3 linked regions of the Homo sapiens genome follow. The protein of the gene in region 1 purifies or fractionates together with the protein of each later gene. This does not show direct contact. Each region holds a gene or a part of one and is shown in the gene's direction. Other genes may lie near its edges. The genes, in order: TRIM16, LARP1 and KLC1.

Region 1 (3,652 bases):
TGCACCCAGCCGATAGTTTTCTTATAATTGAGTTCTGTATATAAAATTACTGTAAAACAAAACTATCAAATTATGTCAGAGGGGTATACACATTTTAAGATTTTAAGATTCTTTAATATACGAGTCAATAAAATCTTGTCTTTGACACTGTGAACATAGTTTAATCTATTTCCTCTCCATCCCATCAGTCTCCCCTAAGTATGCCTCATGTAACTTTTTCTTCAGAACCCCATGCAGGTGTTTCAGGGCTTTATGTCATTCAAGGATGTGGCTGTGAACTTCACTAGGAAGAATGGAGAGAACTGGACCTTGCTCAGAGAGTCTTGTACAGGGATGTAATGCTGGAGAACTATAGGAACCTGGTCTCCTTGGGTGAGCTTGGGTCCTTCCACCCCAGATTGACCTTTCAGGATACCTTTGCCTTCTAAAGATTCCCTTGCTTCTATTAGGGAATGGTAACAAATGAGGCTTTGGTTATTTTCCCCCACAGAATCCAGATCAGATCCTTAAACTGTTTCTCACCCTACTTGGGTAGAAATTATTTAATTGCTTTTGACAATTAGTTATTTCGTTTTCTCCTCTCTAAAATGCAACAGAGTGGGACTGAGAATAGAGTGGTCCTTTCTCTTTTGAACTTAAAATTACATTCTGTTTGTATCTCTTCAGTAGGATTTCCATTTTCCAAACCTGGTATCATCTCCTAGTTGGAAGAAGTGGTAAGCCCACGAACACAAATGCAGGAGGGAGAGGTGCCAAGAAGCAGCGGTACACGTAAGTGAGAACAAGGCAGATTGCATCTTTAGAAATAAGAGTTAGGGGTTCTTCCCAAATCCTCCGGGCCTGTAGAAAATGTTGAATCCCCCTGCAGTCTCATCTTCACTTGACCACATCAGAATCCTAATAGCTTACCTCTTTATTTCTTCCCAGACTCAAGGAAGAGATACTTCCTCCTTAAAGTTATAAGCCCAACACATGATCCAGAGATCAGCTTTGTGCCTCATCCTGAGGCATTTTATGAGGCTATTCCCATTTCCTCTTTAGTAGCTGGAATCACTTCTTCATTTACTCTGTCCTTATCCTACCTAGTTTTCTGCTATATAAGAAATATGAAGAGAAGGAAAGAATTTGAATAATTTTAAGGATATAAAATTGACATAATTTGTTGTGTAGATTTGAGAGGTGAGGGAGTAACAAAGAAAATTCTCAGGTTTCGGCCAGGCGCAGTGGCTCACGCCTATAATCCCAGCACTTTGGGAGGCCGAGGCGGGCGGATCACGAGGTCAGGAGATGGAGACCATCCTGGCTAACATGGTGAAACCCCATCTGTACTAAAAATACAAAAAATTAGCCGGGCGTGGTGGCGGGCACCTGTAGTCCCAGCTACTTGGGAGGTTGAGGCAGGAGAATGGCGTGAACCCCAGGAGGTGGGGCTTGCAGCGAGCCGAGATCATGCCATTGCACTCCAGCCTGGGTGACAGAGCGAGACTCCATCTCAAGAAAAAAAAAAAAAAAAAAGAAAAAATTCTCAGGTTTCTGGTCTGGATGTGTAGGTGAATGGAAGTTCTCTTCCCTGAGATGGAAAACACAGGAGAAGTAGCAAATTTAGGGAGTGGAAGATGAGTTCAGTTTCTCTTAAGTTGTTTGAAGTGTCTATAATAAGTCTAAACCAGTGGTTCTTAACCAGGGGCAAGTTTGCCCCCCGGGGGACATTTGGCAACGTCTGAAGTGTGCTATGGGCATCTCGTGAGTGGAGTCCAGGAATGCTGCTAAACATCCTACAATGCACAGGACGGGGCCCCACACAAAGACTTGTCTGTCTAAAACGGCAACAGTGCTGCAGTTGAGAAAACCTGCTCTAAGTGGTAATGTCTGGAGGCTAGATGAATATAAGGACGACATGCCAAATGTATCTTAGTAAAGGAAAGAGATCTTAACTGGGGGTACAGATTTGGGAGTTGCCTGAGAATGGATGAAATTGAAGCCATGGGAGTGGATAATATCACCCAAAGAGCACAAAAAGAGTTACAAGAGAGCCTAGAACTCTAACGAACACAAACATTCAAGTATCTGCAAAAAAAAGTATATATATATGTATAGTATATAATATATATATTTTTATATTATATATGCAAATATATATGTATATACACATGTATATATACGTATGTGTATATACACATACGTATGTATACATACACATACGTATGTGTATATACACAGGGCTTCTCTCCAGTGTGGATCCTCTGATGTTGGGTAACATGGGCGCTTCTACTGAAGGCTTTCCCACACTCCTGACAATCAAATGGTTTCTTTCCAGTATGAACCCTCTGATGCTGGGTAAGAGATGAACTCTGGCTGAAGGCTTTCCTACAGTCTTTACAGGTGTAGGGTTTCTCTCCAGTGTAGACCTTTATATGTTTTGTAAGAGTTGAGCTCTGACTGAAGGCTTCACCACATTCTTTACACTTGTAGGGTTTTTCTCCGGTATGAGTTCTGTCACATAAATGTGGCAGAGCTTTCGTGTAGTTCAGCCCTCATTAGACACCAGAGACTTCACAGTGGAGAATCTCCCTGAATGTCTGGACAAATCCACTCAGACTCTTCATTTGGTTAAATACCAAAGAATTATACTTTTATAGGTTGTTACAGTGGCGATGCTTTATTATATTTTAAGGGATGAAAATCCCTCCTCTCCTACCCTGGTTATTTTCTCTTGCAAAGCTATCAGAATATCACAAATCCAAGTGAAGAAACACTGAACTGAAATCTGGACTAGCCTAATAGACTCTAAAGCTCAATTTTTATATGTATATGTGTGTATTTTTGTCTGTACCTGAAATGACTGCTGTCACCATGCAGTGATTTTACCCCCCTTCCCTGGCCTCAGGAATAAGCCAAGAAATTCTAGTTGTGCAGAACTGAGCTTGTTGCCCCTTCTTGTACTGATGGAAATAGTGCCATGTCCAAACAAAATAAAGAAGCTCATAGCTAATTACATATCCTAATACCACCTTCCTATAAAACTTTGCCTTAATCTGTAGTCATTCCTGCCCCCAGCTCATACCCTCCTGTGGGCAGCTTTTGTTTGCTTTACCTCATCCCACTGTTTTGTGATCACCCCCCGGGAGATGAGGGACTCAGTTAATAGGCCAGATGTCAAGACTGATGACATTTCACACACTAAGAGAACTTGAAAGTTTACTATTCATACACAGGGTTTCTGGGGAGAGCAGGATAGATGAAAGCTGGTCCAAAATGGCAAGAACAGAGAGGAGGCTGGGCCTTTAAAGTAGCTAGGGAATGGGGCTGGAGAGCATTCGATCTGTGGGCTTGAGGGATTCAAGCTTCCTGCCAGTGCTGGGAGCTCAGGAGATGCCCATGGATTTCTTTATCTAAAGCACCAGGTGTGCGGTGGGGCAGTGTGGGGGAGGGGAGAATAGAAAATGGTGGAAACTTAAATGCTGTCAATGGCCAGACATCAAAAATGGGGCCAAACTCTGTTACATCTACCTTTTCAGAAATCTTTTTTCACTTATCTCAAAATAGCTCTTTAATGTTATTGTGTCTTTTTTTTTTTTGAGACGGAGTCTTGCTCTGTCACCAGGCTGGAGTGCAATGGCATGATCTCAGCTCACTGTGACCTCCGCCTCCC
Region 2 (3,652 bases), on another chromosome or scaffold:
CATTCCAGTGCTTTGCTTCTCTCCCTTGCCTTGTCTGAGCTAAGGAAGTGCTAAATCCTTCACCTGCTCTGTGTTCTGAGGCTGGTGGGCTTACCTAGGATTAGGTAGCCACATCTGCAAAATATACTGGGTGTGGGAGTGGTAACCCCATGTTGAAAGGCCTAAGGAGGATTGACCAGGTATGAGTCCTTGGGCAAATCACTGCATTCCCAAACCTTGATTTCTTCACCTGTTTGAAATAGGCATACCAGTTCCTAGCTCACCACTGTGAACTTTATACGAGAATGAATATGAAAATGCTGTTGTAAAATGTGAGAGATCATGCCCATCTTAGTCCTACAAGTGCTTGATGCTCCTCAGAGTTGTAGGAGTACAAACAGTAACAAACCCTGGGCTAACCTTTGCAGATGCCTCGAAAAAGAAAGACAAGACACAGTTCAAACCCACCCTTGGAGAGCCATGTGGGCTGGGTGATGGATTCCCGTGAGCACAGGCCCCGTACTGCTTCCATCAGGTACCTGGGGCAGTGGGGGAAGAGTGATCAGGCTGCCTATGGGATGGGTGGGCGAGCCATGAAATTGACTGGACCAAGAAGATTGGTCTGAAAATTAAAGGGACCCTCATCTAAGAGGTTTTCAAAAAACCAGTGGTGTGGAAAGCTCAGCCCAGGACCTGGGAATGACGGGTAGGCTTTTTTCCTAAAGAAGTGGTGTGGCAGTCACGTGAGACCAGATTTTCATACATGCAGAGAGAAAATCTCTGAATTGGTTTCCAAGCCTGGCTATCTACTTTCTGTCTGAGGAAGAATAGCCAGGTAGTTGAATAAACAGATTTCTGGCAGTCTCTCTGAGCCTACTATGTCTTGGGAGGCTACTTGAAAAGTTTTAAAAATTAAAAAAATACATATTTATTGGCCCCAACCTGTATCTGCTGACCCTGCTTCTTGGGGTAGGGCCCACACTCTTTTTTATTTATTTCAGTAAGATGGCCCCAGTGTGTGTTTCCTGTTTCCCAAAGCAAGCTTTGAGAGCCACCTACCTATGACCAATGCTCTCTACTCCCTGCAGAGATGGCACAGACTGCAAATAGGCATGCTTTTGAAGAAAATATACAATTGATCTTTGAACAACGAAGGGCGTGGGGTGCCCAGCTGCACACAGTTGAAAATCCGTGTATAACTTTTGACTCTCCAAAAGCCTACTGTTAACCAGAAGCCTTACCAATAACATATAGTCAATTAGCACATGTTTTGCATATTATATGTATTACATACTGTATTCTTACAATAAGCTAAATAAAAAATATTACTAAGAAAATCACAAAGAAGGGAACAACAAACACTGGGGCCTACTTGGTGGGGAGAGGGAGGAGAGTGAGGTACAGTTTACCTACTTAACAAACCTGTACACATACCTCTGAACCTAAAATAAAAGTTAAAATCATAAGAGAAAATATTTACTGTTCAGTAAGTGGAAGTAGAATCATCATAAAGGTCTTCATCGTCGTGGTCTTCATGTTTAGCAGGCTGAGAAGGAGGGGTTGGTCTTGCTCTCTCGAGTGGCAAAGGGGAATCATCATAAAGGTCCTCATCCTCATGGTCTTCACATTGAGCAGGCTGAGAAGGAGGGGTTGGTCTTGCTGTCTCAAGAGTGGCAAAGGTGGAAGAAATCTGCGTATAAGTGGACCCACGCGTGGATCCATGCATTTCAAACCCATGTTGTTCAAGGGTTCACTGTAGATGGATTGACCCATGATGGCTCATTAAAAGGTTAAATGCTTAAAGTTAATAAATGGTTAAAAGCTCAAGTTTTATCATTGGACACGTTTCTGCCATTAAATAGTCTTATGACCCTGGATGAGTCTCCTAATCTCTGTAAGCCTCAGTATCCTCTGTAAAACTCTCTGAGAGTTGATGCAGAGTTAATCAGACCCATGGATATAAGTTAAAGGTCCGTAACTGGGCCTCCTTGTTTGATACCCTGTGAGAGGATGGATCTTGGCTGACAGAACGGATCAGAGGGACCCCTCCTGACATGGTGGGGCTGCTGTGGGGAACCTGGTGACAGTATTTTTTGTGGTTTCTGTAGCTCCAGCCCCTCAGAAGGGACGCCTACAGTTGGCAGCTATGGCTGTACCCCTCAGTCATTGCCCAAGTTCCAGCATCCTTCCCATGAACTGCTCAAGGAAAATGGCTTCACACAACACGTCTACCATAAGTATCGTAGGCGCTGCCTTAATGGTAAGAAGTGTGGGGGGCAGGAGATGAGCCTCTGGGCCCGTTATTTAGACCCAGAGTATAAGAGTTGGGGGATACGGGGATAGGTGACTCTTTTCTCTGACTTCAGAGCAAAAAAAAGACATGACATTATAGCAAGAAAGACTGAAGTTAGACTCGGGCCAGGTAGTTTTAAACTGTAGGAAGCTAGGGGGATATGGCACTCACAACGTTCGTGTTCTTTGATCTTCCTCTATTGATTATTAAAGCTGTCAATTAAGTATTTCCATATCTCTGGCAAGATTACTGACTCAGCCATTGTCAGGTCTAGTCCACTGTCCATCACAAAAGGGTATGTAAGAGGTGACATATGCTCTCTAGAACAAAGGTTGCCAAACTGGCCTGTGAGTCAAATCCAGCCAGTATTCTGTTTTCGTATGGCTTTGGAGCTAAGGACAGTTTTTACATTTTTAAGGGGTTGTAAGAAAAAAAGATTTGTGACAGAGACTATATGTCTTCTGTAAAGCCTGAAATATTTGTTCTCTGTCCCTTTACAAAAGTAGTTTGCTGATCCCCTCTCTAGATGATAGTGTAAGGAACGAGCCTGTCTAGATGCTCTTGTCTGTCCCTGCTCTTTTAGTATTCTGATAGGTTGGCTGTAAAGACGCGCAAAACCAATCTAGTCACCTGTAGTTATTAACTCATTCATCCTCTTTCATTCAACAAAACGTGGTTGCTAAATTCTTGATTCATCCACTTCACTTCTCTCTTTCTTACTCTATGTGTAATAACAGCTTTATTGGGATATAATCTACATATGATGGAACATACCTAAAGAATACAATGTAATAGCTCTAAGTGTACTCATATAGTTGTGTGCCCATCACCAGAATCAATTTTAGAACATTTTCATTACCCCCAAAATGCTATGCCCCTTACCAGTCATACTCATTATACATGCAAACTACTCCCCACCCCCAGAATCCTCCCAGCCCTATGAAACTACTAACCTACTTTCTGCCTCTAAGGATTTTGCCTATTCTGGACATTTCACATAAATTATACTGTATGTGGTCCTTTGTTACTGGCCTCTTCCCCTTAGTATATTTGGTATACTAACAAATACACAGCAAGGTTCATGTCATAGCATGCATCAGTACTTTATTCTTTTTATTGCCAAATCATATTCCATCGTATGGATGTATCACATTTTGTGTATCCATTCATCAGTTGATTGGCATTTGGGTTGTTTCTACTTTTTGTCTATTGTGAATGATGCTACTGGGCATATTCACATACAGGTTTCCTGTAGACGTAGTTTCTCCTTTATTTTGGTTAGAAGAGTAGTATTGCTGGGTCATGGGGTAACCATGTTTAACCCTTTGACAAAATTAAACTCTGTTTTCCAAAGTGGAAATTTTGGAATTTTATATTGAA
Region 3 (3,569 bases), on another chromosome or scaffold:
TCTAAATGCTACATAGAGGTGTTGAAGAAAATTTCATAGGTTCTGTAATAGTGGATGGGATTAAAAGAAAAAATGTTAAATTATATATATATATATGGCTGGGTGCGGTGGTTCATGCCAGTAATCCTATAATCTTAGCACTTTGGGAGGCTGAGGCGGGAGGATCACTTGAGCCCAGTTCAAGAACAGCTTGGGCAACACAGCGAGTCCCTGTGTCTAGCAAAAAAAACCATGTGTATATATATATATATGTGTGTGTGTGTATATATATATATATATATATACATACATATATATACATATATAATTTGATGGGTTGTGAGAAGCCAACCCCCCCCAAAAAAAGGGGGGTGTAGAGCAGCTTCCCCTGACAGGTGCCGTGGCTGCCCCCGTAGTGGGCTATGTCTGTGCACAGGCGACAGGGAGGAGGGCTCCGGAGCTTCCCTTGTGGTGGGGGTGCCTTCTCCCTGTGAGGATGCTGAGCAGAGTTTGGAACCCAGACAGTTTCCCTTAGTGACAGTTATCTGGAAAGGAAAAAGGGCATTTAGAAGGAATAAACATAGGGCTGAATATGGAGTTGAATTTTAACCTCTTCAGACTGATGGGTGCAGACGAGGTTGTGTGGGGCCTCTGTGGAGCCTGCTGTGGCTTCCAGCCATGGGACTTTAGGGCCGAGGTGGCCTCTGCAGCACTGTGGCTGTGGGAGCACTGTGTGTTGGGGTAAGAGAAGCCAGGGGGCCTCCCTGAAGCCAGCTCATAAAGGAAGGTTCGTGTTTCAGAGGGAGGCGGCAAGGGAATCTGAGTACCTGAGTCCCCGATGTTTGAACCCTTCCACCCAATAGAAGTGCGGTGATTTCAGCCATTTCCCATCTGGCGGTCTGAATTTTTCCCTTCAGAGGAGAGAAGTGGTGGGCCCAGGCATCCCTCCTCCTGTGTGTGGTCGTTCTGGTGAGAGGAACCCCACGCGAGAGTCAGCACCTGTTTCTTCAGAGTTGCTGTCAAAATAATCACTGCGCCCCCGCCCCCCGCCCCCCCCCACAGCAGCCGTGTGTGCAGCGCCCGTCCCCAGCAACCATGGCATGGGAGCGTCTGGATCTGTGGGCGGACAGCATATCTCTGGGTAGTTGGTGCAGCTGTGGCAGAAATCAGGCCCCTGGGGAAGTCCTGTGACATGGATGCTTCCCTGAAGCAGCAGCAGTGTGTGGCTCAGGGGTCCTCAGAGGCCGGTGGTGCCCGCGGGTGGCACGGGGCACTCTCATGGGCAGCACTTGGTCTTGTGTTTACAGTATTGGAGGGATTCACATCGTTGTTTTCTGGATTAAGCTGCTAGGAGTATCATGTACTTAGAAATTCAGTGTTTATAGTAAGATGTATTAAACATTGCTAATGATGTATCGTTACAATGTATAACAGGTTTTCCATTGTCATAACTGTATGGAATTTTCTTGGAGGATGTCATTAGCTTCTGTTTGCACTGACTTGTGAGCTGTGTGTACGCTGTGGTCAGATTTCTGAATGCTGTAGAGCACTTACCAGCTCTGACCGTGTCTTGCTGGGGCCAGCAGGCTGCGTGTGCAGCGGGGCCAGCTGTCTCAGGGCTGATATGTAGACGTGTATTCTGTTTACAATTAGTTCCCCAACTCTGTGGGGAAGAACTTAAGCGGTTTTAGTGTTTTATAATATGGTGAGGCAATGAGGGTCAGGGCGCGTGGTCCCTGAGGGAGGGTCTTCAGGGCAAGACCCATGGCCCTGGCCTGGAACTGTGCTCCCCAGGGCGTGGTGCCTCCCTAAGGGGATGGTCAGTGTTCTGGGACTGACTGCCAGGCCAGCCCGTCTGCAGACTCCTGTGGTGGGAGTTCCCTGGGACGGGAAGCCCCTCGGCCCCTTCCCTCCAGGGGCAGGAACTGAGCCAGCATGGGCGGGGCCGGCCGAGCTTCCAGGCGTGTTTTCTCTGTTAAATGTACCTCTGTCTTTAAGCTGTCTCATTTTCTAATCGCTGGCATGTCTTGCCTAGAAAAGCATTTGGAATTGCTTATGTTCAATTACAGAAATAAAATGTCTTACTTGCCATTGTAGAATTCCTGCACTTTTGCAGAAAGGCTGTTTTGTAAAAATCCAACCCCAAAATAACTTTTTCCCATGTTCATGCCAGTGATTCTTAACTTTAGGGTCATAGAGAGCCTTGATAACATGATGAAGGTTTAAACGGATTGTCCCACCCTGGAAAACGGCAAACAGAAAAATTCTGCACAGTATGGCCCCAGCCCTTACCTTTCCCCCAACCAGTGCCAGCCCCCCTTCCTCCCACTGTAGGAGCACCCACAGGCTCACCCTGGGCACATAAGGTGGGGGGTGACAATTTCTGCCTCTGGGTTGTGGGAGGAGTCAAGCTACTTAACGGTTCTGGGCCTGAATTTCCCTACCTGCAAGTGGAGATGTAACAGTACCTATCCCTAGGAGTTGTGAGGAGAACATACTTCAATGTGTATAAATTACTCAGAGCAGTGCCTGGCAGACAGCAAGAAGCAGGTCCTGGAACTGCATCCATTGAACATTTATTTGTCAAAGGCCTGGTCTGTGCCAGGCAGCATGTGGAGGCACTGAGTGGGGGGTGGAGGGGGTTGTACGGTGGGAATCAAGGGGGTCACCACTGTGCCCATGGGGAGGCCACGCCACTCTGCCTGCTGGGTGGATATTTCAGCCTGTGCAGCCAGATGTGTTCCCAGGAGGCTCTGCTTTCCAGCCAGATGTAAGGCCTGGCCACAGTGTGGGACTGGGTCTGCACAGTGTGGGACTGCAGGACAGGGTCCTGCAGGTGGCCCTGCCAGGAGTCCTGCCATATCCCTACCAGAATACCACCCAGCCAGGCCAGGGCTGAGCTGGACGCCCAGACCCCCAGGGCCAGGATACACCGGGACCCTCCTTCCTCTCAACCTCGGATCCTCTTTGCCCAGAACTGTGTTCCCAGGTGGCTGACGAGCCTGTCACGTGCCAGCCCTGCGCTGCCTGCGCTCCTCTGACCGGCTGTGGTGCTGGCACAGGCCACACTACTAGAGACAAGGCAGTCCCCCCACCCCCAGGCTCTCCTGGACCCTGACACTGGAGGTTGGTGGGATATGCTTTCTCCACCTTGTACCACACTGAAGTTTTGTGGGGCACAGTGTGTGCCGAGGTGGGGCCCCCGGGAGCCAAGGACCCAGAGGTGGGTGAGGAGGAGCCGCCTGCCTGCAGCCCCACTGTGGCCTGAGTGGTGGGGGAGTAAGGACTGCCCTGTGTGCAGGAGGGGAGACCCTCGTGGGCACGGTCCCAAGGCTGAGGGGGTCTGAGGCCCCAGCCCAGGGGGCAGGCCTCAGACGCAACCCCAGTTGGGCTTCCATGTGGAGAGAAGAAGCAGGCGGCTCCCAGGGAGTCACTGTAGGACACCCCAGGCTCCAGCCCTGAGAATCACCTCTCCCCAAGGGCCAGCTCAGCAGTGGGGACCAGGTACCCAGCAAGCGGGCCTGTCCCCAGACCCAGGGAGAGGCAGAACATCCCCCCAGCTCAGATGGGGGTCAGTCTGTGGCCACCAT

Evidence for each region.
Region 2: the proteins of TRIM16 (region 1) and LARP1 fractionate together in Homo sapiens (co-fractionation; one large-scale study listed by BioGRID). This does not show direct contact.
Region 3: the proteins of TRIM16 (region 1) and KLC1 fractionate together in Homo sapiens (co-fractionation; one large-scale study listed by BioGRID). This does not show direct contact.

The regions. Positions count from the first base shown.
Region 1 is NC_000017.11:15,674,295-15,677,946, reverse strand, and holds part of TRIM16 (tripartite motif-containing protein 16), read left to right. Parts: intron 1-225; 5' UTR 226-372; intron 373-666; 5' UTR 667-771; intron 772-3,652.
Region 2 is NC_000005.10:154,803,794-154,807,445, forward strand, and holds part of LARP1 (la-related protein 1), read left to right. Parts: intron 1-407; coding exon 408-514; intron 515-2,087; coding exon 2,088-2,239; intron 2,240-3,652. UniProt on the Homo sapiens protein: RNA-binding protein that regulates the translation of specific target mRNA species downstream of the mTORC1 complex, in function of growth signals and nutrient availability.
Region 3 is NC_000014.9:103,695,078-103,698,646, forward strand, and holds part of KLC1 (kinesin light chain 1), read left to right. Parts: exon of another isoform or gene 1-2,078; intron 2,079-2,539; exon of another isoform or gene 2,540-3,569. UniProt on the Homo sapiens protein: Kinesin is a microtubule-associated force-producing protein that may play a role in organelle transport. The light chain may function in coupling of cargo to the heavy chain or in the modulation of its ATPase activity.